4 linked regions of the Homo sapiens genome follow. The protein of the gene in region 4 purifies or fractionates together with the protein of the main gene of each other region. This does not show direct contact. Each region holds a gene or a part of one and is shown on either strand. Other genes may lie near its edges. The genes, in order: ELAVL2, CLUH, GPHN and ZAR1L.

The links.
Region 1: the proteins of ZAR1L (region 4) and ELAVL2 purify together in Homo sapiens (co-immunoprecipitation; 2 studies listed by BioGRID and IntAct, with this or other methods). This does not show direct contact.
Region 2: the proteins of ZAR1L (region 4) and CLUH purify together in Homo sapiens (co-immunoprecipitation; 2 studies listed by BioGRID and IntAct, with this or other methods). This does not show direct contact.
Region 3: the proteins of ZAR1L (region 4) and GPHN purify together in Homo sapiens (co-immunoprecipitation; 2 studies listed by BioGRID and IntAct, with this or other methods). This does not show direct contact.

What each region holds. Positions count from the first base shown.
Region 1 is NC_000009.12:23,823,220-23,830,977, reverse strand, and holds the start of ELAVL2 (ELAV-like protein 2), read left to right. Parts: upstream 1-4,737; 5' UTR 4,738-5,172; intron 5,173-7,758.
Region 2 is NC_000017.11:2,694,746-2,701,768, reverse strand, and holds part of CLUH (clustered mitochondria protein homolog), read left to right. Parts: intron 1-31; coding exon 32-156; intron 157-248; coding exon 249-403; intron 404-503; coding exon 504-629; intron 630-943; coding exon 944-1,091; intron 1,092-1,294; coding exon 1,295-1,387; intron 1,388-3,178; coding exon 3,179-3,873; intron 3,874-4,826; coding exon 4,827-5,050; intron 5,051-5,230; coding exon 5,231-5,335; intron 5,336-5,509; coding exon 5,510-5,610; intron 5,611-6,242; coding exon 6,243-6,395; intron 6,396-6,488; coding exon 6,489-6,551; intron 6,552-6,667; coding exon 6,668-6,912; intron 6,913-7,023. UniProt on the Homo sapiens protein: mRNA-binding protein involved in proper cytoplasmic distribution of mitochondria.
Region 3 is NC_000014.9:66,917,141-66,924,163, forward strand, and holds part of GPHN (gephyrin), read left to right. Parts: intron 1-5,525; coding exon 5,526-5,798; intron 5,799-7,023. UniProt on the Homo sapiens protein: Microtubule-associated protein involved in membrane protein-cytoskeleton interactions. It is thought to anchor the inhibitory glycine receptor (GLYR) to subsynaptic microtubules.
Region 4 is NC_000013.11:32,312,341-32,319,783, forward strand, and holds the start of ZAR1L (protein ZAR1-like), read right to left. Parts: upstream 3,024-7,443; 5' UTR 2,975-3,023; intron 2,806-2,974; exon of another isoform or gene 2,737-2,805; intron 2,211-2,736; 5' UTR 1,990-2,210; intron 1-1,989. Other genes in the region: BRCA2 (breast cancer type 2 susceptibility protein), read left to right, coding at 4,121-4,187, 6,737-6,985. UniProt on the Homo sapiens protein: mRNA-binding protein required for maternal mRNA storage, translation and degradation during oocyte maturation.

The sequences.
Region 1 (7,758 bases), on a different chromosome or scaffold from region 4:
TTAGTATCCCTGAAAGAAACGGACATAAGTCTCTGATTTGCCCTTTTTCACCTCCGGGTTTTTTGGGGTTTTTTTTCCTTCACCCTCGCCTAGTCGCCTAGATTTTCCCTTTTTATGCTCAGGAAAAACGTGAGTTTATCCTCCTAAAAGTTGCTATTGAGTAAAAGAGGGGAAGGAAATCTGGGGACATTTGTGGGAGCGTCTACATAAAATAATCGTCGATCTGAGGCTGCAAATATATTTTCCTAGACACTCTGGGACATGTGCAACAGATCTTAGTCTGAATATCTGCAGGCAAATCATCTAAAGGAGAATGAACCTCATACATTGGTCCAGGAAAAAAAAAAAAAAGGTGTGTGTGTGTGTGTGTGTGTGTAAGTGGGGGGCTGGGAAGGGAGAACCAACCTAGGCTGGTCTCAAAGATTTACCGCGACACTAGTTACATTTTTTAAAAGAACATTTAAATGAACAATTCATGTGTCTTTAAGTGTAAACAGCAACCTCAGGATTCGGGGGGAATATTCCTTGAGTGTGCTCTCTTACTTTACAGTCTTTCCCCCTTGAACAGGAGTTTACAGACACAATGTAAAGAGAAAGTAAAGGATGTTTGAGATCCCGCTCACTGCCGCCCCTGGCACTGTCCCTAACGAAAGTGTTTGCAATGTAAAGAATCTTTCGCAAAATAGTCTTGGGAGTCACTCACCTTCCAGTAAAAGGCTTTACCCCTTTGCTAGGGGGTGGAGGGAGCAGGGAGAAGAACGGGGGGAGGGAGCAAGGGTGAGCAGGCAGGCATTTTTGCTGCAATTCCAGCTGGGATATTCGAGGATTAAAAACTCTGGAGCAGGTTTACCAGACTTTTCGAAGACTACCTGGATTTGCATTTATTTTTCATGAACACTCTGAAGAAAGGCGAGCTCACGCCGGCAAGGGAGTGTATGTAAAACAGGACAGTGGAAGGTGCACAGCGAGTTCGGGGCTCTAAGTCTCCTGACAGTTTGTCATGATGGCTGAGTCCTAAGAAATGCCAGCCTAATTCAAAATAAATGAGTTTCTGTGGAGTAGGACAGTCTTTTCCGCAAAGTCCCGTGGAATAAAACATTCCCAAGACACGCAGTTTCCGTGTCTCACAGAAAGGGACAGAAAACACCGTCTCAAGCTTTGCAAATCTTAATTTGAGGGCTGCTCGTCTCTGTCCATGGTGCTAATTCCTGCCTCTTTCTCTTGCGTGGTTGCCACGGTATAAATTCACACTGGTGTCAATTTTCACAACTTTTCCCCCCTTTCGGTGAAAGGCAAGTCCACATACTACTTTAGGAAGAATAAATAAAAGAGTAATCAGCAAGATATATGATATCTGTATTTCTCATGCAGACATTAAACTATCATATTTCCAATAGTATGAACCATAACCCCCTACTCCACCATACTAACACATAACATTTTTATTCATCTAAGAAGGTTTACTGTTGGAAATTACTGCCTTAAGCCAAACATTGTAAACTAATTTTAATAGTTTAACTTCTTTATTTACTTACAAAACGTTACAAGTAGTTTACAGTAACTTTTATTACAAAATGTAAAATCACTCCTTCCCTTGCTCCCAGGACCTCTAGTGTAAGGGAGTTATTTATCCTAAAAGACATTTTCCACAACAGCTTTGCATATTCTTATGAATAAATGTTCTCTTATATAGAAACTTCAGTAAAATAATTAAATTCATGACTTTTTCGGTTTTGAGAACTATTCTTTTGCAACTTTATCCACCTCACACTTTTGCTCCAAGTTCGCAGTCATTCCCTTCATCTCTCCCTTTTCTGCTGCAATTCAAAATAATGCCAGGAACTTGGAAGATATGTCAGAGTTCATATAACTTAATCATATTCAAATGTCTTTTAAATACTTTCTAATGCAAATTCAGATGTTGTGGATAATTCTTTTACCAAACTATGAGTGAAAAGGGGTTGATTGCATTTTTTGCTTATTCTTAAGTGAGATGTTTGCACATAGGCTTCATTAATTAATCATAGGATAGTATGTATTTGTTAATGTTTCAAGCTATGAGACATGAATTTCAAAGTGAAATCTACATCCAGATATCACTTGTTTTAAAGAGGCTGTAATCAATATTTTTTATTTTTAAAAGTTGAAAAAGTACATGTTGCTTATAATACATCTATCCATTTAAAAGTTTTAAAATGTAAAAACATCTGTTTTAATGAGGAAGTAAAATAATATTTTAAGATACTTTCACTTTTTAAATAATTTAAGTCCATCTCACCTACATAAAAAGACAACATGTTAGGGATGACAATACTTTGAATAATATTTTGTCACTATGCCCAAGCTGAAAAAAAACCATAAATACTGAATCTACAGAATTTAGCATTTTTCATTTGAATGAACAAGTTTACTATTTTCCATGTAATTTCTTTACATAATACACATGCTAGATTTTTATTACTCCATATCACTCCCAGCTTTTCACACCTGTCCCTATCATTTTGGGTTATCTACAGATATCACAGTTATCTACAAGTCTTTTTTTGTGGATATAAACATGCACCAAAAAAAGTATTAGTTTCCACCTAGTTAGAAGGCACTTATATAATTATAATGGTAAAGATTTACTTCAATGTACTGAAATTATATGGGCATATGCAACTAATTCAATATTAACCTACGAGCATGGTAAAAAGGAGGAAAGACAATTCACTGCCTAGGTAAGTCTGATGAAATCAAACAGTATTATACTTTCCCCAAATTGTATTCATTTAAAGGTTATTTCTCTGTATGGAGCTGGGGACAAGGGGAGGGGTTGAAGGAAGATGACTACAAACCCAATCTTCTGTTATTCATACATCTAGTCTAGATGGGGTGGAGTCTTCCTTTTCCCCCTTGACTCCATTTCTTCAAAGTGCTTTTCTTTCTTCTTGCTGTGAGTTTCACCCAGGTCTAGAGAATAGTTTTAAGTTGAAATTAAGACTCCAGAGGTTGTTATACAAAAACTGGGGGTGGAGGTTAAGGCATGATTTTATAAACACTAATTATAAGATAACATAGATTCAGGCCTTCTTTCTCAAGCCCCAGGTATTGTCATGCAAAGTAACAGAACTCGTATATTGTTATACAGGCTACACGGGAGATAAACAGGTCTGTTTTTCACCATTAATCATTTATCAACACTCAAGGACACTCTCAAAGAACACTGATTTACTGTATTCCTCACTTCAAAGTCATTTTGCTTTGGGATCTTCTGTCCCATTCCCCTCCATGACACCCTACCCTTTTGCAATCTCTAACTCTTACCTGTGTCTTCTTTTTCCGGCATTCTCAAAGATAGCGACTAGTTGTAAATATGTAAAGGAATCCCTTTCAAAAAGGCATGTGCCTCTGGTTAAGACACATTACATGTGTAATGTAATGTGTACATTACATTTACACATTCTGGTAAGAATGGTAAAAACTGTCTAGGAAGTTGGTGCTATCTTTCAAGATTGAAAAGAGAAATGCTGGCTGGAAAAGAACGTAGGTCAAATGAATATTGTGTCTACTTATACATCCAGACGATCCTGAGGACCTCACTTTCACTTAGAGGAAGAAACAATTATCATGCATAAAACTGTATTTTGGTCTCCTGAATGCTGTTAAAATATGGGGTTGTAATAAAGTAGTCTTCCTCTATGAAGCAGAAGCATTGATAGCACTTGGTCTTCTGGTTAAACTTCTTAAATCCTCACAGAAAGAGCCCTGATAAAGGTTCAACTATCTTTGCTGTCAGCAATACATGTGTGGTCCAAGGACTGTACCTGTCTGCAAATGCAGAGGAGTGGCTTGTTCCAGTTTTATATACAGCTGCTCTTTTTGAGAATCATTAGACACCTCGAAGTGAAGGACCTTAGCTCTACTCAATACCTCTTTTTCTGGATAGGATATTTATCCTACACTTTTCTATTCTAACATGAAGTGAAAGCCAATTCAAACCGTGCAGCTTTATTTGAGAGCATTTCTGACTTCATCTTTATCTTAAAAGGATGCTTTAAAAAGGGGTTCATGGGGACACATAAATCTGAAATATGCGTATATTAAAATAAAGACATACAATTACCTAACATCTAATACAAAATACAGTACTGAACACAAATCGAAAAAAGGCATGCGGGCAAATAATGGATGTACATTCATCCCTTTCACTCAGATCAAAGAGAGGGAGCTCTCAATGACTCATACATACCGGACAGAGTTAAATGTTATAAAGAAATATGCCACAGATGCAGCAGTGATGGCAAAGGAAATGAATCTTTCTGAAGCAGAAAGATTTAAGAGGAAAGGAGATCGTGCCATATCGCAAACTCTGATAGTACAGTTCCAACCCTCCCACGTTGCTCTCTCCACATTTCTTTTTGCTTCTTGCATTTCCCTTCGCCGCCAGTGTTAAGAGTGTACCTCCCCGCACAACTTACCTTGAAACGGGACTCCATTGAGCTCTCGAGAGTGACACAAGCCCATAGCCAATCGTCTCACGCGGCCCCGCCTGGGCGGCCTCAATGGAAGCGTGTGGACCAATCAGGATCCTGGGGCGATGAGCAAGTTACGTTGTGGCGCGATTCGGCGTATACTTCCGCGCGTGCTGCCCGGGATAGGAGCCTGGCAGAGCAGCTGCACACACGGCAGTGCGGAGGCAGAGAAGGGGTTGGTGATACGGTGCTATAAATCTGTGGTCCAGTCCACCTCCCTTTTAAGACGTCCTCCCCCCTATTTCTGTTCTTAGTTAGAGATGCAGCAGCTTACTCCTGTAGCGACCTACTAAAAAGCAACAAGGAGAAAGACATCGTCTTTTTGAAAAAACGTTCTTTCGTCTCTTTTCTTTGTTCCTTGGTTTGTTTTTCTTGCCCCTTTTTGTTTAGTTGAACGGCAATAGGAGGGTAGTCTCTCCGTCTTTTTAAACTCTTTTTTAAGTTTCCCCTCCCCTTTCATATTTTTTTTCGCCATTTCTTTTAGCATTGGACTTTGGGGTCGAAAGCGTTTCTTTTTATTTGCTTCTTTTAAGCCGAGCACAGTTTAGGTTTCGTGCTGTCTTAAGAGAACTATCCAGCAGCTTCTTGCTCATCCTTATTGGGAGAACTGCACCGTTACTTTAAAAACACACATACACAAAAACCTTAAGGGAGAAAGGTAAGTTTCGGTTTGGTTTCTTTAATCATTAGTTGCAGCGATGCGCTGGCAAACCCAGAAAACCTGTAAGTGAGCGGAATACAGAATATGAAGTTAATTGCACATGTTTGTCTCATTTCAAAGCTACTGTTCTGCTTTTTTAATTTTAAAGAGCTAGACTAAAAGACGGTGGACGCATGCTTAGCGTACTGAATATTCGTAAATGTCCATGGCAGAAACTTAAGTGGTAAATGTGGCCAGGGGGGAGTAGGGGTACAATGGGAGGTTAGATGTGGAGTGAGCTTCAAGATTGAGATCGGAAGTTCATTTCGTGGGGAGAGAGTGATAACTTGGGTGTTGGGGATGCATGCCTCTACTTTGGCTCAGCAACGGAAGGACGGGAGAGGCTTTACAATCATTAAGGGGAATCAGAAGCCTGGACTGGCAGATTAGACCAGCGAAAACCACAGGCTTAATTGCATTAACCAGATAGCATGTGCTGGGGAGATGGGATTGCCAGATGGAATTTAGATGCTGCACCAGGCAGCGAGTTGTAGTTGACTGAAAAAAGTACATGCCGCCTGAGGGCTGGGGCTGGGGCTGGGCTGAGGCTAGGGTTGTTAGAAGCTGTCAGAACTCATCATTGTATGCGGGCTCTGATTCACGGACTCCAATTATCATAATTCAGTTTTAAAAGAAGATAGCCAATTTGGGGCTGAATTCTTAAGCCTGTACCGGATATGAGATTCCCTTTGTTCAGAAAAGCGTAAATAAGATCCTTGGAGCTGTGTCTATGAAGTGCCGGCTGCTTGGGAGCCTCGCTGTGCTGGGCGCTGGGAAGTGGATTCCAAGCCCTGTCCTTGGTCCTACGCGGCTGACTTCGCCTTCGGGGAGAGGGGGAACCCCTCTGCAGCCGCGAGGCTTCGCAGCCACCCCAGGAGCCAACTCGGCCACGTAGCCCTCACCCCCTCCTTACCGCCCCCACTTCCTCGAATAGCTATTGTTAAATTGACGCCAGGAGAAAGATGGTTGGGGATGACAAGCTGGGCAGATAGGCACACGCTTCATTTTAACTTTTGTGATTTCTCAGGGTTTAGGAGAAATCATTTGGCTTTCTACTGCCAAAGAGAGGATCCAGGGTAGATGTGGGAAAGGGGGAGGATGTTCGTGGGCCGGGGAGGGCGGAAGGGGTGGTGGTGGTGGAACAAGCTGCTGGCTTTCCTAAGAGAAGTTTAAATTATTGGCACGAGGGGGTGTGGGTGAGTGTGTGCGTGAGAGCGCTCATGTGGTGCTCGAGAGGCAGAGGATGGGAAAAAGCTACAAAGCCGGCTGGGGTTAACGTCTCGTTGCTCCTCACCCCACCCACTCTACCGGCTGGGAAAGCCAGCGCACCGTCAGCCTCCCGGACTGGACTCTGCGAAGGGCGGTGGGGGCTAGGGATGGCAAGGTGGCAGTGCCCACCACTGGAGCTCCGCGGCGGACGAGACCTCGCGTGGCCATTGTTGCTTAATTTATGCCCAGCACGTTGCTACGTACCCACCTATTTCACGTCTGTACAGAATTAATACGAAAGCTATACAACTGTGACAAATTGGAGGTTGGATAAGTTCCCCGTTTCCCATTTTCAAGTACCGGTTAGCAAAACTGATGGCGAGACTGGGTATTTTCTCGTAATTACCGGCTGCAGGTCTGGTTTTATTATGGCGAGGGTGAGAGAAATAGCCAACCATTTAGTATTTACTGTTAACACTGCTGGACAGGGATGGAGGTCTCTGTACTTTCTCCCCGAAATGCACGGATTCTGTCCCTTCCCCCTCTCATGTACAAACACTCCAGTTGGTTAAGATTCTAAACCTTCAGCCGTTCTCCGCACCCCTATTTATTATACCCATCCTCTGGGGGTGGGAGGGAGATTAATGTTTTATTTCCCAGGCCTACACTATTAACTGCAACCTATAAAACGTAGACTTACAATGAAAATTTTTAGAAAGTACACAGCAGACAATAGTAACTAAAGAAATTATTTTCCAAATTGAAAATCAGTTTCTAAAGGTCAGAAAAAGGGTGTTCGTGTTTTGGGGAACAGAAGGGTAGGAAATGTGTTTGGGCCTTAAGACTTCCTTGTAAAATGGCTTCTTAAATGGGACATCTGAAAGATTTGTCAGACTATGAACAGATAAGCCCGCAAAAAAATATGTTGAGAGTTTCGAAGTTGTTATGGGGTTAACATTTTATTTTTTAACTCTCGCCCTTACTTATTGCTGTCATTGCCTGAATGTGTCTTACAGCAGGCACTTCTTCCCCGTTCCCTCTTTTAACCAAGTGCTTGGGCACCCCGCTTCATAAAGCTAACCTGTTCTGGAGCTCTTCACAAAAAACGCTACGGTTGTAGGAAGAAGTGGTTTGGAAGACTTGGGGAACTCTTCTGAGAGCTCTCCCATAATTTAGTCAGCGTCAGGAAGTAGGGCGTAGGGCATTCTAAGAGTTTTAGGTTTGGATTGACAAATTAAGTAGGCCCATTTTCGCCTAACGTTTTGGAAATAGGCATTTTTAGCAATCCCGCGTGCCTGGGATGAGAATATTATAATTAACTATTTACTGAGAGGT
Region 2 (7,023 bases), on a different chromosome or scaffold from region 4:
CTGTGCTGACCACCAGCCTCGGGTCCCTCAGACAGCGGGAAGCGGAAGAAGGGCTTGGAGATGGACCCCATCGACTGCACACCACCCGAGTACATCCTGCCAGGGAGCCGGGAGCGGCCACTGTGTCCCCTGCAGCCCCAAAACCGTGACTGGAAGGTAGGATCCTGGGGGAGGGAGGAAGAGGGTCCCTGGCGGGGTGGAGGCCCCACACCAGAGGCCTGGCCCCTCAGACTCGGCCGCTCCCGAAGCCCTTGCAGTGCCTGAAAGTACTCACCATGAGCGGATGGAACCCGCCCCCGGGGAACCGGAAGATGCACGGGGACCTCATGTACCTGTTTGTGATCACAGCCGAGGACCGGCAAGTCAGCATCACCGCGTCCACACGGGGCTTTTACCTGAATCAGTGAGTCCCTGCCAGCCCACCACACCCCCCTGCCGTGCCAGCCGTCCTGGGTCTGGGCAGACACCTGGGCCCCCGCTCAGTGCCCGCCCTCTCCCTGCAGGTCCACAGCTTATCACTTCAACCCCAAGCCCGCCAGCCCCCGCTTCCTAAGCCATTCCCTAGTGGAGCTGCTCAACCAGATCAGCCCGACCTTCAAGAAGAACTTCGCTGTGCTGCAGAAGAAAAGGTAGTGCCTTTGTCCCCTCCCGCCTTGTCTCATGGCACACGGGGGCATGGGGTGAGCCGGCCCACCTGCACTCCAGTGCTTCTGTCTGAAGAAACCGCCCTGGGCCCCCAGTGTTGGAGTCCCCGCTCTAGGGAGCTGTCGGCCAGTGCCGAGACAGCAGCCGCAGGAGAGGCGCCCGTGCACTTCCATCTGGCTCCAGGGCAGTGTCTCAGGGTGGGAGATGCCGGAGCAGGCGGGGGCCTCAGAAAAGGGGCCCGTGGAAGGGCTCTGAGCTTGGTGGGCTGCCCCATCTCCCCCTCCCCTGCCTGCCACAGGGTCCAGCGCCACCCGTTCGAGAGGATCGCCACCCCATTCCAGGTGTACAGCTGGACAGCCCCCCAGGCGGAGCATGCCATGGATTGCGTGCGTGCAGAGGACGCCTACACCTCGAGGCTGGGCTATGAGGAGCACATTCCTGGACAGGTGCCTGCAACCTGGCCCTGCCCTCGCTGGGCACCCCTGCCCTCCTGGGTGCTGGGCTGGTTCCGTGCACTTCCCTGGAGGCCCCATGCTTGACTTCATTTGGGAGTCTGGGGCTCTTCTCAGGAAGGTAGAAGGAGCGACTTCCGGGAGCAGGTCACAGGGCACAGGCTGAGCTCGTTTTTCCCTCCCTGATCTCTCTGCAGACCCGAGACTGGAATGAGGAGCTGCAGACGACGAGGGAGCTGCCTCGCAAGAACCTGCCTGAGCGGCTGCTCCGAGAAAGGGCCATATTCAAGGTGCCTGCAGCCTCTGCTGACCGGCAGTCTGAGGCCCGCTGTCCACCTGCTGACGGGTTTTCTCATGGAGAGGAGGAAAGCAAGGGAGGCAGGGGCAGCCCTAACCCTGTCAGGTTCCCCGAAGGCCAGTCAGCGTCTCCCGCAGGGTCTGCTAGCCTTCCGCCTCCCAGCAGACCATCCCAGTACCTTTCTCTGGCCTCTCTGAGGCTTTGAGTCCCTGGAAGGAGCGGGCCCTACTTCCCATAGGGACTGAGTGTCCAGGGCCGTGCAGCTTCCCGCCCTCTGTGACTGCTGCGGGGCTTTTGCCTGGGCGAGCACTGGCCGGCCATGGCCCTTCTAGGGCGGGTGCTCATTTGCATAACACTTTTAGTTTGCTGGGGTTTAAAAGTTATTAGTGCTGGGTTACTAAGAGAAATGAGGAAAAGCAGTTGCTTAAGAAAAAAAAAATCTCAGGCCGGCTTCAGTAGCTCATGCCTGTAATCCCAGCACTTTGGGAGGCCGAGGCGGGCGGATCACAAGGTCAGGAGTTCAAGACCAGCCTGGCCAATATGGGGAAACCCCATCTCCACTAAAAATACAAAAATTAGCTGGGTGTGGTGGCGCATGCCTGTAGTCCCAGCTACTCGGGAGTCTGAGACAGGAGAATTGCTTGAACCCAATAGGCGGAGGTTGCAGTGAGCCGAAATTGCATCACTGCACTCCAGCCTGGGCGACAGAACAAGACTACGTCTCAAAAAAAAAAAAAAGAAATCTCAGCCAGGCACAGTGGCTCACGCCTGTAATCCTAGCACTTTGGGAGGCTGAGACAGGCAGATCACTTGAGCCCAGGAGTTGGAAACCAGCCTACGAAACATGGTGAAACCTCGTCTCTGCAAAAAATACAAAAGATTAGCCAGGCATGGTGGCATGTGCCTGTAGTCCCAGCTACTCGGGAGGCTGGAGTGGGAGGATGGCCTGAGCCAGGGGAAGTCGAGGCTTCAGTGAGCTCGGATCTCGTGCCGCTGCATTCCAGCCTTGGCAACAGCGTGATACCCTGTCTGAAAACAACCAACCTCCCATAGTTATACTGCCTAGAGATGATAATTGTAGAAACAAAAACTCATTTCTCGGGTACCGACTTCACCAGAGATGGTGCCAAGTGCGTTATAGAGACTATTTCCTATAATATATTGGACAACTTGTAAAGGTCAATACCTTTATCTGTTCAAGTTCACCTGGCACATAACTGGTGGATCCCAAACCTGCGCACGCTTGTTAATCACTAAGCCCTGCTGTCTCCCTCAGCACAAGTGTATTCTCAAAACATGGGGGTTTTGGTTTGTTTGCGCTTTTTTAGAAATGGAGTCTCACTCTGTCCCCCAGGCTGGAGTGCAGTGGTGTGATTTCGGCTCACTGTAACCTCCACCTCCCGGGTTCAAGCAATTCTCCTGCCTCAGCCTGTCGGGTGGCTGGGACTACAGGCGCGCGCCACCTCGCCTGGCTGATTTTTTTTGTATTTTTATTAGAGATGGGGTTTCACCATATTGGTCAGGCTGGTCTCGAACTCGTGACCTCAAGTGGTCTGACCGCCTCGGCCCCTCAAAGTGCTGGGATTACAGGTGTGAGCCACCGCGCCCGGCCAAAACATGGTTTTCTTGCCCTTTTCTACATATGAGGAAACTGAGGCTCCGGGTCCTTGGGTTTCCAAGGCAGGCCCGGTTGCCTCCGCGGTCTAGGTGCGTGCGCTTGGCCAGGTGGATGCAGGCTCTTGTGGGCGCGGCCTCTAACCCTGCCCTCCTCGACCCCCGCCAGGTGCACAGCGACTTCACCGCGGCAGCCACCAGGGGCGCCATGGCCGTCATTGACGGCAACGTGATGGCCATCAACCCCAGCGAGGAGACCAAGATGCAGATGTTCATCTGGAACAACATCTTCTTCAGCCTGGGCTTCGACGTCCGAGACCACTACAAGGACTTCGGGGGGGACGTGGCGGCCTACGTGGCGCCCACCAACGACCTGAATGGCGTCCGCACGTACAACGCGGTGGACGTGGAGGGGCTGTACACGCTGGGCACGGTGGTGGTGGATTACCGCGGCTACCGGGTCACGGCCCAGTCCATCATCCCCGGCATCCTGGAGCGGGACCAGGAGCAGAGCGTCATCTACGGCTCCATCGACTTCGGCAAGACCGTGGTGTCACACCCGCGGTACCTGGAGCTGCTGGAGCGCACGAGTCGGCCCCTCAAGATCCTGCGGCACCAGGTGCTCAACGACCGTGACGAGGAGGTGGAGCTCTGCTCCTCGGTCGAGTGCAAGGGCATCATTGGCAACGACGGGCGCCACTACATCCTCGACCTGCTGCGCACCTTCCCCCCGGACCTCAACTTCCTGCCCGTGCCTGGCGAGGAGCTGCCTGAGGAATGCGCCCGCGCCGGCTTCCCCCGCGCCCACCGGCACAAGCTCTGCTGCCTGCGCCAGGAGCTGGTGGACGCCTTCGTGGAGCACAGGTGAGGGGCGGCCCTGCCGGACCAGGGCCGGGGCCAGCTGCAGGGAGTGCGGGCGCCCTGGGTGGATCCGGGGTTGGGTCCTTGAAGGGAGAAGCGCTGGAGAGTGAAGAAGGGCTCCGTCTAGCCACAGTCATTGGAGACCCGTCCCCACCTGCCCTGCTGTCAGGCTCCCGAGCGCAGAAACCCGGGCTGCAGACTCGCGAGCAGCCAGGCGGGTAATGTGGCTGTGGCGGACACTGTTCTCTTAAGGAGCACTTGGAAGTCTGGGTGGCTGTGACTGTCCCCGTGCTGGGGCGGGCAGGTGGGGCACCGGGGGTCCCCGCCGCTGGTGTTTAGTGCTTAGGAAATGGGGAAATGGCCATGTCAGAGGTCCCACAGCATGAGTAACTCTCAAATGCCAGTGGCTTCCTGTCACTGTTGAGAGCCCTGACCTGGATGGGGAGCTCCTCTTTTCCCATACCCTCCAGAACGCAGCTGCCTTTTTTTTTTTTTTTCTGAGACGGAGTTTCACTCTTGTCGCCTAGGCTGGAGTGCAATGGCACGATCCCGGCTCACCGCAACCTCTGCCTCCCGGGTTCAAGTGATTCTCCTGTCTGAGCCTCCCGAATAGCTGGTATTACAGGCGTGCACCACCACGCCCAGCTAATTTTTTGTATTTTTAGTAGAGACGGGGTTTCTCCATGGTGGTCAGGCTGGTCTCGAACTCCCAACCTCAAGTGATCTGCCTGCCTCGTCCTCAAAGTGCTGGGATTACAGGCGTGAGCCACCACGCCCGGCCGCCTTTTTCTTCCTGTCTTGGGAGATCTTGGTTTTTCTGCGTTGACTCATGCACACCGGCCAGGAGGTGCCCTATGCCTGCGGGGTGTGGAGCCCCAGCTGCCGGGAGCCGTGGGCCAGCAGAGCTCCTCTCCCCGATGTCCAGCTCCTGCTCTGCCCTGTTTCCTCTGCTCCAGGTACCTCCTCTTTATGAAGCTGGCCGCCTTGCAGCTGATGCAGCAGAACGCCAGCCAGCTGGAGACCCCCTCCTCCCTGGAAAATGGTGGTCCTTCCTCCTTGGAGTCCAAGTCTGAGGATCCTCCAGGACAGGAGGCGGGAAGTGAGGAGGAGGGTAGCAGCGCCAGCGGCCTGGCCAAGGTGAAGGAGCTGGCAGAGACCATCGCCGCAGACGACGGCACAGGTGGGGCTGCTGCAGATGGCCGGGAGAGAGCCCGGGCTGGCCCTGCCAGGGTGGCTTATGACCCCCACCTGGGAGAGGCTGGCAGACATCTCTGCAAGGAGCTAGGGGGCGAGGCTTGGCGCAGCCCAGCTCCACCGGTGGCAGAGGGGACCCGTGTCTCATGGAGCCATGTCTCCACAGCAGACCCTCGGAGCCGGGAGGTGATCCGCAACGCGTGCAAGGCGGTCGGCTCCATCAGCAGCACCGCCTTCGACATTCGCTTCAATCCTGACATCTTCTCACCAGGCAGGTGGTGGGGGCCGGCCAGCGCAGGAGCCCTCCAGGGCCAGAGCTTCGCTGGGGGGCCTGGGCCCTTGGGGCTGGTGGGTTTGTCCCCCATCTGAGCGCTTCCCCCGCCAGCGCCAGGCGGCATTTGTCTTGCCACTGCCTGGCTCAGCCTCTCTGCTCTCCCTCCTCCAGGGGTTCGTTTCCCTGAGTCCTGCCAGGATGAAGTTCGGGACCAGAAGCAGCTGCTGAAGGACGCGGCTGCCTTCCTGCTCTCCTGCCAGATCCCTGGCTTGGTGAGGGAGGGGCTGCGGGGCTGGGTGGGGCTTGTGTGGAGGGTGCTGGTCCCTCATCTGTCTCCGACTTGGAGGCCCATGAACACAGGCTCGCAGGAGTGACTTTTTCAGCTTTCCCTGAGTGGGCATCCCCGTTTGACAGATGGGGAGCCTGACCCCCAGAGGTCAAGGGCACAGGCCCTGCTGAGCCCACCGTGTGGGCTGGCAGCTGGTAATCCAGTCTTCTGAGCCCTGGATGGTGGCATGGCTGGGGGACGGGGCCAGAGCTCAGTGGGGGCTGCCCATCCTCCTCCTCCTCCCGCAGGCTCTGTGTCTGGTTCCAGGATGCTGGGTGCTCCCCCAACACCGTGGCCTCCAAGCCTCAGGACACGGGGCTGGGGGTCAAGTAGTGCCCCCAAGCGGGCACCTCTGCTTCTCCCACATGGTTAGAGGGGGCCTGTACCACCACCGGGCTCTTGGTTCTTGGCCTGCGCTCCTGCCAGAGGCTGGGCACATTCTGACATCCTGACTGGGAGCTGGAGCCTTCGGGGTCCTTCTCCAGGGCCTCCCAGGATAGCTGTGCTCCCCCAGAAGGACTCAGTTGGGTGGAGGCAGAGGAGCTGGGTGGGGGCCTGAGCTGCTGCAGCCCGCAGGTGAAGGACTGCATGGAGCACGCGGTCCTGCCCGTGGACGGGGCAACGCTGGCAGAGGTGATGCGCCAGCGGGGCATCAACATGCGCTACCTGGGCAAGGTGCTGGAGCTGGTGCTGCGGAGCCCGGCCCGCCACCAGCTGGACCACGTCTTTGTGAGTGCTGCCCGGGGTGGGGCGGAACGGGAGCTGTGGGACTGGGATGGAGGCCGGGGGCCTGACCAAGACCTCCCTTCTGAATCCTTCCAGAAAATCGGCATTGGAGAACTCATCACCCGCTCGGCCAAGCACATCTTCAAGACGTACTTACAGGTGCCACCCGTCCGCTCTGCGGCTGGCCATGGCCTCCCAGGGTGGTGTGGGGCGTCGGGAAAGAGCCTGAGGTGGGGCTGAGGGCCCTCATGACTCGGATCCAACCTGCCTCGCAGGGAGTCGAGCTCTCCGGCCTCTCAGCCGCCATCAGCCACTTCCTGAACTGCTTCCTGAGCTCCTACCCAAACCCCGTGGCCCACCTGCCCGCCGACGAGCTGGTCTCCAAGAAGCGGAATAAGAGGAGGAAAAACCGGCCCCCGGGGGCTGCAGATAACACAGCCTGGGCTGTCATGACCCCCCAGGAGCTCTGGAAGAACATCTGCCAGGAGGCCAAGAACTACTTTGACTTCGACCTCGAGTGGTGCGTGCGGGGCAGGGGCGGTGGGGTGGGTGGGATTGGGCAGATGAGGCGGCCACCACCTGCTCCCAGATGGCGTCTAAGGCCTGTGGTCATAGGCCAGGGAGTCAGAGA
Region 3 (7,023 bases), on a different chromosome or scaffold from region 4:
TTCTTCCTCAGGCCAGTCATTTTCTATTAACATTATATCCTGAGGAGGCTTTAACTGAATTTCCCAATACACTTAGCCATAACCTAAAAAATAAAAGTCAAAAGATACTGGCACGTTCTTAGAGTCCTTCTCAGACATTAACAGACCAGAATGTCTCCCAGAATGATGCTACTCAGGTTTGCAGGCTTGTTGGATTCCAAAAATAAGAGTGGTCTCAGCAACATATGACTTCACTCTTTCAAGCATCTGTTACAGTTGAGCTAAGAAACAATGTCATCTCTTGTTCTGAACCTCTTTGGAGATACCAATGCAGTATTATTTCCCTTACTGCATAACCTATCCATTCATTCCTTTACCCTCAGCTACCATTCTTCCTTCTCTCTATTTATACCCAAACTTTTTCACCTTTTAAAGAGTTGTAAGGTTTGGCCACTGTGCTGATTCAGATTGCCGTTGGTAATACTAGTTTAGCAAGTTCCTCCTGCACAGTCTATTCCTATTCATTTAGAGTAGGATTGTATCCCTTACCTTCATTTTAGCTAGCATAGATAACAATAACCAAGAGATTGTGTGTTTAACTTCTTTCTTTATATTTTGCATCTCCTTATGCATCCAGTGAGATAACTTTTTGGGAATTATCTCCATTAACTAATCACAGTAAAGAAGCAATTCCATGCTGTGGTTGACACTGTCTTCACTCAGGGATCAAAGGTTCATCATCCCACACCCTCTCTTCACTTCCTAAGCCATGTATTTCAGTGAGTCAGGGTCTTTCTAGAAAATCTTATTTTTGACACCAACTGTAAGGAGTTTTAGCCAACTGCAAAAAATAGCCACCTACAAATGTGGAGTACTCCACAAAATTGCTCATTTCTGACCCTAATTGCAAATTCAGGAGATCCTAAAATGACCTTCAGGTTTAATAATTTACTAGCATTCATGGAACTCACAGAAAGCTGTTATACTCATGATTATTGTTCATTGCAAGGAAAGAATACGGATTAAAGTCAGCCAAGGGAGAAAGTGCATAGGGCAGAGTCTAACAGAAGTAACAAATGAGGAACTTCTGTTGTCCTCTCTCTTTGGAGACATGGACATGTCACCCTTCTGGCGTCAATCTGTGATACCACACATGGAGTAATGCCAGCTGGGGATGCTCACCTGAGCCTTTGGTATCCAGAGCTTTTATTGGGACTCAAACACTTACTGCCAGTGTGGCTGACCTGTAATCTTTAATCCTAAAGTAGAGAGAAGCAATTGGGGGCCTTCTATGTAGAAAGTGGGGTCAGAAGGCCAAGAAAGGGAGTATGAGTATATATCCAAGTCACTTAGGAACTTTTATGCAGGTGCAAAAAAACTTATGTCAAAGTGGCCACAAGATTATTTAATAGACAGATGAATGAAAGTCCATGTTTACTGCTAGACACGAAAGCTTTGTGTGAAATCTTGAATTAATGGGGAGAGAGGGAGGGTAGCCTATACCTGTCTGTTCTTTTCCTGATCCCTTTCCCTCATTCCTGAACTGCAGTCTAACATTGTTAGACTGTCTCTGGTGCCCAAAGTCCATGGACAACAAAGACATTCCTATTAGGCGTGAAATTCCAAGGACCTAGAGATCACTCCCAGAAGCTGAGTGTAAAGACCAGACCTCTCCTCGGTCAAGGTTAAATTCTTTACCACACAATCTTTAAAGAGTAAACTGATTGAGCCATACAAAGATAGGTCGAAAGATTAAACATCTTTCCCGATATTATGTAACCCTCCAAAAATTTTTAAGATTTTTTTTTTTACATCTTAGATTTTAAGCTATTACTTCAAATGTGAAAGAGAAAGACCTCCACCTCTTCTGCAGCTATAGCTGGCCTTATATTCTGATTTTTAGGTTCTTACCTATTCTCTTTTGGTAATACGTTATAGATAATAGTGAGCACCTCAGCAGCAGATTATATTAACTTTATGCAGTGCTCTTTGCAAGCTTATTTTATATTTTGCTTGCTGTACAATGTTACCTAGCTATACTTTATGATGGTAGTTAGAACTTTAGCTCTCTGGACAAAATAATCTGGTTCTCACCTCGGTTGTTAGTTCTACTGCCCTGCTCTAACTAAAAATATGAAACCTCTTTCCTGCCTTTTTTTAAACAACTTCAGTACCAATAAATCTTTATTCATTGTATTTTCCCAAGAAAAGGAGAAGGGATAGGAAAAGAGTCAGCATGTGTGTTAAAAAAATGATTAGAAGATGGGAAAAGAAGTAGAGAATACAGCAAAATCAACCATCAAATAAACATACCCCAGTGGTGGGGTCACCGAAGCCCAAACGGGCTCAATCTCCTGCAGTTCAAGAATGAGGGGTTGGGATTAGGAAAATAACAGACAGGTACAGGCTACTCTCCCTCCCCATAAATTCAAGATTTCACACAAAGGTTTGGTGTCTAGCAGTAAACACAGAGTTTCATTTGTCTGTCTCCTATTAAACAATCTTGTGGCCACTTTGACATAAGTTTCTTGCATCTGTGTAAAAGTTCCTGAGTGCCTTGGATATAAATATTCATATTCTTTTACTTAGCCTCCTGAGCCCACTTTCTGCATGGAAGGCCCCCAGTTGCTTCTCTCTACTTTTGGATTAAAGATTAAGTAGATTTGGCCAGGCGTTGGGGCTCAGGTCTGTAATCCCAGCACTTTGGGAGGCCGAGGTGGGCCGATCACAAGGTCAGGAGTTCAAGACCAGCCTGGCCAACATGGTGAAACCCCATCTCTACTAAAAATAAAAAAAAACTAGCCAGGCGTGGTGGCAGGCACCTGTAATCCCAGCTACTCAGGACGCTGAGGCAGAGAATTGCTTGAACCCAGGAGGCGGAGGTTGCAGTGAGACAAGATGGCGCCATTGCACTCCAGCCTGGGCGACAGAATGAGACTCCGTCTCAAAACAAACAAACAAAAAAAAATGGTTAACTAGATTTGACCCATCCAAGATACAGCAGTGTCTTAAGTGTTTGGCATGAATCACATCAAGAAATGGTCTTGACTCAGGAGGTTGGGAACAAGGGATGAAGGGCTCCTAGTTTCTTCAGGATTTTTGCATAAATCATTTAAGAGTTGTAGAAATAACGCAAGAATTAAATGTGTGTATGTGAGTATGTAAGTTTTCTCTTGGGGAGGAGGGGATGGAAAAGAGGGTAGTATACAAGTTTTTAGAATGTATTTATTTATTTATTTTTAGAGACAGAGTCTCACTGTGTCACCCTGGCTGGAATGCAGTTACACAATCATAGCTCACTGCAGCCTCAAACTCTTGGGCTTCTTTCCTATCTTTCCTGTCTTTCTCATAATGCATCTTTCAACTACCAAGTTGTATATAGAAATTTTACTTTTTTTAAAATGCAGTGCATGCTTTTTTTTTTTTTAGAGAATGAATCTGATTCTGACCATCCATGCCTGTCCTCAGTCTTATTTTTTTTTATTTTTCCATAAGTTATTGGGGTACAGGTGGTATTTGCTTACATGAGTAAGTTCTTTAGTGGTGATTTGTGAGATCCTGGTGCACCCTTCACCGAGAGGTATACACTGCACCATATTTGTTGTCTTACCCCTCACCCCCCACACTCTTTCCCATAAATTCCCATAAGTCCCCAAAGTTCATTGTGTCATTCCTATGCCTTTGCGTCCTCATAGCTTAGCTCCCACATATCAGTGAAAACATACGATGTTTGGTTTTCCATTTCTGAGTTACTTCACTTAGAATAATAGTCTGTAATCTCATCCAGGTCATTGCAAGTGGTGTTAATTCATTACTTTTTATGGCTGAGTAATATACCATCATATATATATAAAATAGTTTCTTTATCCACTCATTGATTGATGGGCATTTGGGTTGGTTCCACGATTTTGCAATTATGAATTATGCTGCTATAAACATGTGTGTGCAAGTGTCTTTTTTGAATAATGACTTCTTTTCCTCTGGGTAGATACCCAGTAGTGGGATTGCTGGATCAAATGGTAGTTCTACTTTTAGTTCTTTAAGGAATCTCCACAGTTTTCCTTAGTGGTTTCACTAGTTTACATTCCCACCAGCAGTGTAGAAGTGTTCCCTGTTTACCGCATCCATGCCAACATCTACTGTTTTTTGATTATTTGATTATGGCCATTCTTGCAGGAGTAAGGTGGTATTGTATTGCAGTTTTGATTTGCATTTCCCTGATCATTAGTGATGTTGAACATTTTTTCATATGTTTGTTGGCCGTTTGTATATCTTATTTTGAGAATTGTCTGTTCATGTCATTAGCCCACTTTTTGATGGGATTGTTTTTTTTTTTTTTTCTTACTGATTTGTTTGAGTTCGTTGTAGATTCTGGATATTAGCCCTTTGTCAGATGAGTAGATTGTGAAGATTACAAAACACTGCTGAAAGCAATCATAGACGACACAAACAAATGTAAACATATCCCATGCTCACGGATTAGTAGAATCAATAATGTGAAAATGACCATACTGCCAAATGCAATTTTCAAATTCTATGCCATTCCCATCAAAATACCACCATCATTCTTCACAGAGTTAAGAAAAACAATTCTGAAATTCATATGGCACCAAAAAAGAGCCCGCATAGCCAAAGCAAGACTAAGCAAAAAGAACAAATCTGGAGGCATCACATTACGTGATTTCAAACTACACTATAAGGCCATAGTCACCAAAACAGCATGGTACTGGTATAAAAATAGGCACATAGATCAATGGAACAGAATAGAGAACCTAGAAATAAAATCAAAAACTTAGAGCCAACTGATCTTCGACAAAGCAAACAAAAACATAAAGTAGGAAAAGGACACCCTTTTCAACAAAGGGCGCTGGGATAATTGGCTAGCCCTATGTAGGAGAATGAAACTTTATCCTCAACTCTCACCTTATACAAAAATCAACTCAAGATGAATTAAGGACTTAAACCTAAGACCTAAAACTATAAAAATTATAGAAGATAACATTGGAAAAACCCTTCTAGACATTGGCTTAGACAAGGATTTCATGACCAAAAACCCGAAAGCAATTGCAATAAAAACAAAGATAAATAGCTGGGACCTAATTTAAACTAAGGAGCTTTTGCATAGCAAAAGGAATAGTCAGCAGAGTGTATGTTTTTTTTTTTTTTGTCACTGTAACTATTTTTATTACATCACAATAATTAGGAGTAGTACAGTTCATGACAAAAATATTACAAATTTTAGATCATTTCACAGCACATACTCCTATAAACATTTAAAAGTTAATTTCAATTAAAAGAGTGGTCATTTTTAATGTTTCATATGACCAACATTGTAGCACTGTAGTTCCTTAGCTTATGGAGAATGCTATAACATATTTTATGCTTACTTCATGGCATATTGCTAAGACAATGTTTTACATATGATTGATTCTGAGATTGATGGAGGAAAATGCAAATCCAAAATCACGAAACAGTTTGATTGCCACCATCTTATATAATTACAAAAGTGCTTCATCTTAATTTTTTTTTCTTTCTCTTGCATACAGGAATGCTTTCAATTCATACTGCCAGCTCTACCTCATGCCATTGACCTTTTACGTGATGCCATTGTAAAAGTAAAGGAGGTGCATGATGAACTTGAAGATTTGCCTTCCCCACCTCCCCCTCTTTCCCCTCCTCCTACTACCAGCCCCCATAAACAGACAGAAGACAAAGGAGTTCAATGTGAGGAAGAGGAAGAAGAGAAGAAAGACAGTGGTGTTGCTTCAACAGAAGATAGTTCCTCATCACATATAACTGCAGCAGCCATTGCTGCCAAGGTAAGCCTGATGAGAGTTACTCAGAGGCCTAAAGGACCCACAGGTAAATGTACTGGTTTCATCTGTTTTGCATCGCATCCCTCCCTACATTTAATACTTCTTCAGAGAACCCTAAAAAAATAAGTGGGATGTCCATGACACTCCACTACTATGTTTCCTTCTTGATATAGATTCCTTGAAGTCACTGAAGTTAATTCTGAGTTCTGAGGCATTACTGATGAGCTGTTGCCTATTGAAGTAATAGCTACAATGATAAACAACGTGACATTTTAGAACTCTTTGGAGATGTCATTTTTGTGGACATATTAAATATATAATGTTTATATATTCAAAGTATCAAAATGTCACAAATTCTTAAAGGAACAGCAAACTGAAGGTAAAAGACCTTAGATGATTCAAGAAATGAGTTGGGAAAGATTAATAAAGATTTTTAAAGGGACAAAGCTTTTCAGCGATTGTTGAATTTTTCTTAACTAATAACTTATTCAAACATTGCTTGACACAAATTACCCTAGTGGTAAAGATAGGAAATGGATATATTTGCATTTCTACTTTAAGAAATATTATTAGGACAATATCAAAGTATTACAAATTCTCTTTGGGCAACTCCATGGGTAAATATACTACCATGAGTTACTTGAGTAAATTTAACTGTCTTAAAGTTATAGAACATGGTTTATTCTTCATACCTACTAAAGTCAACCTAGTATGCCTTAATATCTACAGAAAGTAGCATATCAATTCTGGAAATTATGATTTTTCATTAAGAGCATAAAGATTGAAAATTTAATTGCTATATGACATAATTATCAGATTTTATGGATTATCCAGTTATTTTGGCTACGAGCATTGTGAGGTTTTTTTTTTAATAATATATAGATTAGAATCATCGAGAAATCCTTTTGAAGTGTCCATTCAGTGATCCAGTGAGTGCTTACTAAAGGCTAGTAAGTATTTAAGTTTTGTGTGATTTTTTTTTTATGAAACCAATTGGTGAAACAGGCATTTTTAAATCATTATATGTTCCTTTTCCTTTACTCTGAATTAAAAGAGTAAGAAGTGCCATAAATTTCAATCTTAGGAGAGAAGCTTATGGCATTTAAAATCTAAGCTGATTCTGTCATTCTACATTTGGAAAATGTTAGCATTTCATTTTTCCATTTGTTTTTACCTTTTTTCCTTTTTAGTCATTTTGCTTGTATAGTTTCATGTTTTCCTGTCACTA
Region 4 (7,443 bases):
AACAGTATGAAGGTTCCTTAAAAAAGTTAATAGAAGTACCAGATAATCCAGTAATCCCACCACTGCGTATTTACCCAAAGGAAATGAAATCAATATCCTGAAGAGATACCTTCACTTCCTTGTTCGTTGTAGCATTATGCACAATAGCCAAGTTATGGAAACAATCTAAGTGTCTGTTAACAGAAAAATGGATAGAGAAATTGTGGCATGTATTTATACAATGGAATATTATTCAGCCTTAAAACAGGAGATCCTGGCCAGGCGCGGTGGCTCACACCTGTAATCCCAGCAGTTTGGGAGGCCGAGGCAGGCAGATGACCTAAGGTCAGGAGTTCGAGACCAACCTGGCCAACATGATGAAACCCTGCCTCTAATAAAAATACAAAAATCAGCCGGGTATGGTGGCACGCTCCTGTAATCCCAGCTACTCGGGAGGCTGAGGCTGGAGAATCACCTGAACCCGGGAGGCAAAGGTTGCAGTGAGCTGAGATCACACTACTGCACTCCAGTCTGGGCAACAGAGAGAGAAAGACTCCGTCTCAAACAAACAAACAAACAAAAAACAGGAGATCCTGCCATTTGCAACAACATGGGTGAAACTGGGGAACATTATGCTAAGTGAAATAAGCCAGATAGAAAAATACTGCATAAACTCACTGATATGTGGAATCTGAAAAAGTCAAATACATAGAAGCAGAAAGTAGAATGGTGGTTACCAGGGACAGGAAGTTGGGGGGAATGGAGAGAGACTGGTCAGAGCCTAAAATGTTACAGTTAGGTAGAATGAATGAGTCTAGAGATCTAATTTACAGCATAACGACTACAGTTAACAATACTGTATTTTATACTGAAAAGTTTCAAAGAGAAATTTCAGGTGCTCTCACCGCACACAAAAGAAAGGTAATTATGTGAACAGATGGATATGTTAATTGCTTGACTATAGTAATCATCTCACTGTGTACATATACATGTTGTGCACATTAAATATATACAACTTTTAGGAAATAATGGTTTTTTGGGTTTTTGTTTGTTTGCTTGTTTGAAATGGAGTTTCCTTGCTCTGTCTCCCAGGCAGGAGTGCAGTGGCATGATTTCGGCTCACTGCAACTTCCGCCTCTGGGGTTCAAGTGATTCTCCCACCTCAGCCTCCCAAGTAGCTGGGATTACAGGCACATGCCACCACACCCAGTTAATTTTTGTATTTTTAGTAGAGACAGGGTTTTGCCATGTTGGCCAGGCTGGTCTCGAACTCCTGACCTCAGGTGATCTGCCCACCTTGGCCTCCCAAAGTGCTGTGATTACAGGCGTGAGCCACCATGCCCAGCTGGAAATAATGTTTTTAAGAAAAATTAAAGCATATTGTAAATTGAATACAAATAGTAAATTGAGCAGCTGCACTAGAAGAGAATAGGTGAGAAAGTCTATTATGGTGGAGCTAATAAGTTGCAAGTCCCTGGTACAAAGAGAACAAGAAACATAAAGGTATGGGGGGCTGTATAAAATGACAGAAAATGTTATTTCTGAGACTTGTGTGACATGCCACGGGTTCTCATTAGTCCACTCCTAGTGAGACACCCCTCCCCCACAAAAAGGGGACAAAGCATATTGTTCTGATTTATAGGGTAAATAAATCACAGGTTAGTTAAGTGTATGAAGTCAAATGGACTAGAATTCAAACCTGGGCCTTACTACCAGGCACATTACTTAACTACTTGATTCAGTATCCTCATCTGACAATACTGACCAATTTACAGGATTACTGTAAGATTAAACATGGTATTGCTTGAAAACCCAAAGCAGAATGCCTAACTCATAAAATGTTTGGTAAGTGGCAGCTGTTATTAGTAAGGATCACAGACGTATTTCTTTGCGAATTAGACTTAGAGCAAAAGCTTTAGAATCTATCTGCATTAGTAAGGCCTCCTTCTACAACTAAGGATTACTGATTATCAAACTAAAATGGTCCCTAAGGAACCAAGCGGAGCCCACCCTTTTCCTAATCCAAGGTTGCTTCTGTTTACTGCTCAAGCACCTTCTGGAAGCAGCAAGGCCCCCATGGGAGCAACTCTCACTGAATCCATTTGAAGGTTTTGTAGGTCTTACAACAAACCCTATTCAGCCTTGTATTAGGCATGTTACAGAACCAACGAATTCGGAGATGAAGTCAGGTCTTCCAGTTCAGCCTGCGAGGAAGACAGGTGATCCGAATCCTAAGAATGCAAAAGATGGGCCGGGTGTGGTGGCTCATGCCTGTAATCCCAGCGCTTTGGGAGGCCGAGGCAGGCAGATCACCTGAGGTCGGGAGGTTGAGACCAGACTGACCAACAACGGAGAAACCCCGTCTCTACTTAAAAATGCAAAGTTAGCCGTGCGTGGTGGCCCATGCCTGTATTCCCAGCTACTCGGGAGGCTGAGGCAGGAGAACCACTTGATCCCTGGAGGCGGAAGTTGCGGTGAGCGGAGATTGCGCCATTGCACACCAGCCCGGGCCACAAGAGCGAAACTCCGTCTCAAAAAAAAAAGCAAAAGATACTACCAAGCCCTGCGGAGCAAGGTACCTCACACTTCATGAGCGAGTTAAGATGGGTTTCACAATTTTTCAAGCAAGGAAACGGGCTCGGAGGTCTTGAACACCTGCTACCCAATAGCAGAACAGCTACTGGAACTAAAATCCTCTGATTTCAAATAACAGCCCCGCCCACTACCACTAAGTGAAGTCATCCACAACCACACACCGACCACTCTAAGCTTTTGTAAGATCGGCTCGCTTTGGGGAACAGGTCTTGAGAGAACATCCCTTTTAAGGTCAGAACAAAGGTATTTCATAGGTCCCAGGTCGTGTCCCGAGGGCGCCCACCCAAACATGAGCTGGAGCAAAAAGAAAGGGATGGGGGACTTGGAGTAGGCATAGGGGCGGCCCCTCCAAGCAGGGTGGCCTGGGACTCTTAAGGGTCAGCGAGAAGAGAACACACACTCCAGCTCCCGCTTTATTCGGTCAGATACTGACGGTTGGGATGCCTGACAAGGAATTTCCTTTCGCCACACTGAGAAATACCCGCAGCGGCCCACCCAGGCCTGACTTCCGGGTGGTGCGTGTGCTGCGTGTCGCGTCACGGCGTCACGTGGCCAGCGCGGGCTTGTGGCGCGAGCTTCTGAAACTAGGCGGCAGAGGCGGAGCCGCTGTGGCACTGCTGCGCCTCTGCTGCGCCTCGGGTGTCTTTTGCGGCGGTGGGTCGCCGCCGGGAGAAGCGTGAGGGGACAGATTTGTGACCGGCGCGGTTTTTGTCAGCTTACTCCGGCCAAAAAAGAACTGCACCTCTGGAGCGGGTTAGTGGTGGTGGTAGTGGGTTGGGACGAGCGCGTCTTCCGCAGTCCCAGTCCAGCGTGGCGGGGGAGCGCCTCACGCCCCGGGTCGCTGCCGCGGCTTCTTGCCCTTTTGTCTCTGCCAACCCCCACCCATGCCTGAGAGAAAGGTCCTTGCCCGAAGGCAGATTTTCGCCAAGCAAATTCGAGCCCCGCCCCTTCCCTGGGTCTCCATTTCCCGCCTCCGGCCCGGCCTTTGGGCTCCGCCTTCAGCTCAAGACTTAACTTCCCTCCCAGCTGTCCCAGATGACGCCATCTGAAATTTCTTGGAAACACGATCACTTTAACGGAATATTGCTGTTTTGGGGAAGTGTTTTACAGCTGCTGGGCACGCTGTATTTGCCTTACTTAAGCCCCTGGTAATTGCTGTATTCCGAAGACATGCTGATGGGAATTACCAGGCGGCGTTGGTCTCTAACTGGAGCCCTCTGTCCCCACTAGCCACGCGTCACTGGTTAGCGTGATTGAAACTAAATCGTATGAAAATCCTCTTCTCTAGTCGCACTAGCCACGTTTCGAGTGCTTAATGTGGCTAGTGGCACCGGTTTGGACAGCACAGCTGTAAAATGTTCCCATCCTCACAGTAAGCTGTTACCGTTCCAGGAGATGGGACTGAATTAGAATTCAAACAAATTTTCCAGCGCTTCTGAGTTTTACCTCAGTCACATAATAAGGAATGCATCCCTGTGTAAGTGCATTTTGGTCTTCTGTTTTGCAGACTTATTTACCAAGCATTGGAGGAATATCGTAGGTAAAAATGCCTATTGGATCCAAAGAGAGGCCAACATTTTTTGAAATTTTTAAGACACGCTGCAACAAAGCAGGTATTGACAAATTTTATATAACTTTATAAATTACACCGAGAAAGTGTTTTCTAAAAAATGCTTGCTAAAAACCCAGTACGTCACAGTGTTGCTTAGAACCATAAACTGTTCCTTATGTGTGTATAAATCCAGTTAACAACATAATCATCGTTTGCAGGTTAACCACATGATAAATATAGAACGTCTAGTGGATAAAGAGGAAACTGGCCCCTTGACTAGCAGTAGGAACAATTACTAACAAATCAGAAGCATTAATGTTACTTTATGGCAGAAGTTGTCCAACTTTTTGGTTTCAGTACTCCTTATACTCTTAAAAATGATCTAGGACCCCCGGAGTGCTTTTGTTTATGTAGCTTACCATATTAGAAATTTAAAACTAAGAATTTAAGGCTGGGCGTGGTGGCTCACGCCTGTAATCCCAGCACTTTGGGAGGCCGAGGTGGGCGGATCACTTGAGGCCAGAAGTTTGAGACCAGCCTGGCCAACATGGTGAAACCCTATCTCTACTAAAAATACAAAAAATGTGCTGCGTGTGGTGGTGCGTGCCTGTAATCCCAGCTACACGGGAGGTGGAGGCAGGAGAATCGCTTGAACCCTGGAGGCAGAGGTTGCAGTGAGCCAAGATCATGCCACTGCACTCTAGCCTGGGCCACATAGCATGACTCTGTCTCAAAACAAACAAACAAACAAAAAACTAAGAATTTAAAGTTAATTTACTTAAAAATAATGAAAGCTAACCCATTGCATATTATCACAACATTCTTAGGAAAAATAACTTTTTGAAAACAAGTGAGTGGAATAGTTTTTACATTTTTGCAGTTCTCTTTAATGTCTGGCTAAATAGAGATAGCTGGATTCACTTATCTGTGTCTAATCTGTTATTTTGGTAGAAGTATGTGAAAAAAAATTAACCTCACGTTGAAAAAAGGAATATTTTAATAGTTTTCAGTTACTTTTTGGTATTTTTCCTTGTACTTTGCATAGATTTTTCAAAGATCTAATAGATATACCATAGGTCTTTCCCATGTCGCAACATCATGCAGTGATTATTTGGAAGATAGTGGTGTTCTGAATTATACAAAGTTTCCAAATATTGATAAATTGCATTAAACTATTTTAAAAATCTCATTCATTAATACCACCATGGATGTCAGAAAAGTCTTTTAAGATTGGGTAGAAATGAGCCACTGGAAATTCTAATTTTCATTTGAAAGTTCACATTTTGTCATTGACAACAAACTGTTTTCCTTGCAGCAACAAGATCACTTCATTGATTTGTGAGAAAATGTCTACCAAATTATTTAAGTTGAAATAACTTTGTCAGCTGTTCTTTCAAGTAAAAATGACTTTTCATTGAAAAAATTGCTTGTTCAGATCACAGCTCAACATGAGTGCTTTTCTAGGCAGTATTGTACTTCAGTATGCAGAAGTGCTTTATGTATGCTTCCTATTTTGTCAGAGATTATTAAAAGAAGTGCTAAAGCATTGAGCTTCGAAATTAATTTTTACTGCTTCATTAGGACATTCTTACATTAAACTGGCATTATTATTACTATTATTTTTAACAAGGACACTCAGTGGTAAGGAATATAATGGCTACTAGTATTAGTTTGGTGCCACTGCCATAACTCATGCAAATGTGCCAGCAGTTTTACCCAGCATCATCTTTGCACTGTTGATACAAATGTCAACATCATGAAAAAGGGAAATGATTCCATAGCGTTATTATGAAAGTAGTTTTGAACTGTAATGGTAGAGGATGAATAGCTCACAATACAAATTTGTCATTTCCCTTTAAGAGAGAATTCCCATTTTATGTGAGAGTCCACATGTTCCTCATACCCATAGTTTGCCACATCTTGAGTACTCTTCAGAATTATTTGAATTTTTTGAATTTTATCTGTGGAATGTATTTTTTTTTTTTTCTTTTTTGAGACACAGTCTTGCTCTGTTGCCCAGGCTGGAATGCAGTGGCGTGATCTCGGCTCACTGCAACCACCGCCTCCTGGGTTCAAGTGATTCTCCTGTGGCAGCCTCCGGAGTAGCTGGGACTACAGGCGTGTGCCACCATGCTTGGCTAATTTTTTGTGTTTTTAGTAAAGATGGGGTTTCAACGTGTTAGCAAGGTTGGTCTCGATCTGACCTCGTGATCTGCTCGCCTCAGCCTCCCAAAGTGTTGGGATTACAGGCGTGAGCCCCCGCACCTGGCCGAATTTTATCGTGGAATGTATTCTTAATGTGAATAGTTTTTGATTCCGAACCATGAATAATAAGAAAATAAATAAAATTTAAATGAAAATAAAAGCTAATATATACAGCTTTTAATAATATAGTTAAATGCCATCTTGTAACTTTTGTGAACTCTTGTTACACCTTTCTATAGATTCGCAAGAGAATGGATTAATGATCTTGTTTAATTAATATGCCTTAACAAAAGTAATCCATAGTCAAGATCTTAAGCATTTTTTTCCTTATGATCTTTAACTGTTCTGGGTCACAAATTTGTCTGTCACTGGTTAAAACTAAGGTGGGATTTTTTTTTTAAATAGATTTAGGACCAATAAGTCTTAATTGGTTTGAAGAACTTTCTTCAGAAGCTCCACCCTATAATTCTGAACCTGCAGAAGAATCTGAACATAAAAACAACAATTACGAACCAAACCTATTTAAAACTCCACAAAGGAAACCATCTTATAATCAGCTGGCTTCAACTCCAATAATATTCAAAGAGCAAGGGCTGACTCTGCCGCTGTACCAATCTCCTGTAAAAGAATTAGATAAATTCAAATTAGACTTAGGTAAGTAATGCAATATGGTAGACTGGGGAGAACTACAAACTAGGAATTTAGGCAAACCTGTGTTAAAATCTTAGCTCATTCATTAATTGTGTCATGCTGGGCAAATCAGTCTCTCTGGCCTCTTTTTCCTCACTCGAAAAATGGAGACGATGAAAATAATGTCTCATAGGTTTGGATTAAATTAAATAATGTAGGTACTTAGTAAATGTTCTCTTTCATCCCTCCTTTGATAAATTTGCCAACTGAGATTTGCTGAATTACGTCTTTCTTATGCCAAAAAAACCTAGGACTTGTTTTGATGTTAATTAAACTAAACTATATTTCTGCAAGCTATCACAGAGGACAGAGATTATTTTACCGATATACTATAAGTATCATGATTTGGAAGGAGTTTCCCTGGCGTAGGTGCCGCATGTTTCTAAGCAATTATGTAATAAGATTATATATTCAGTCATTCA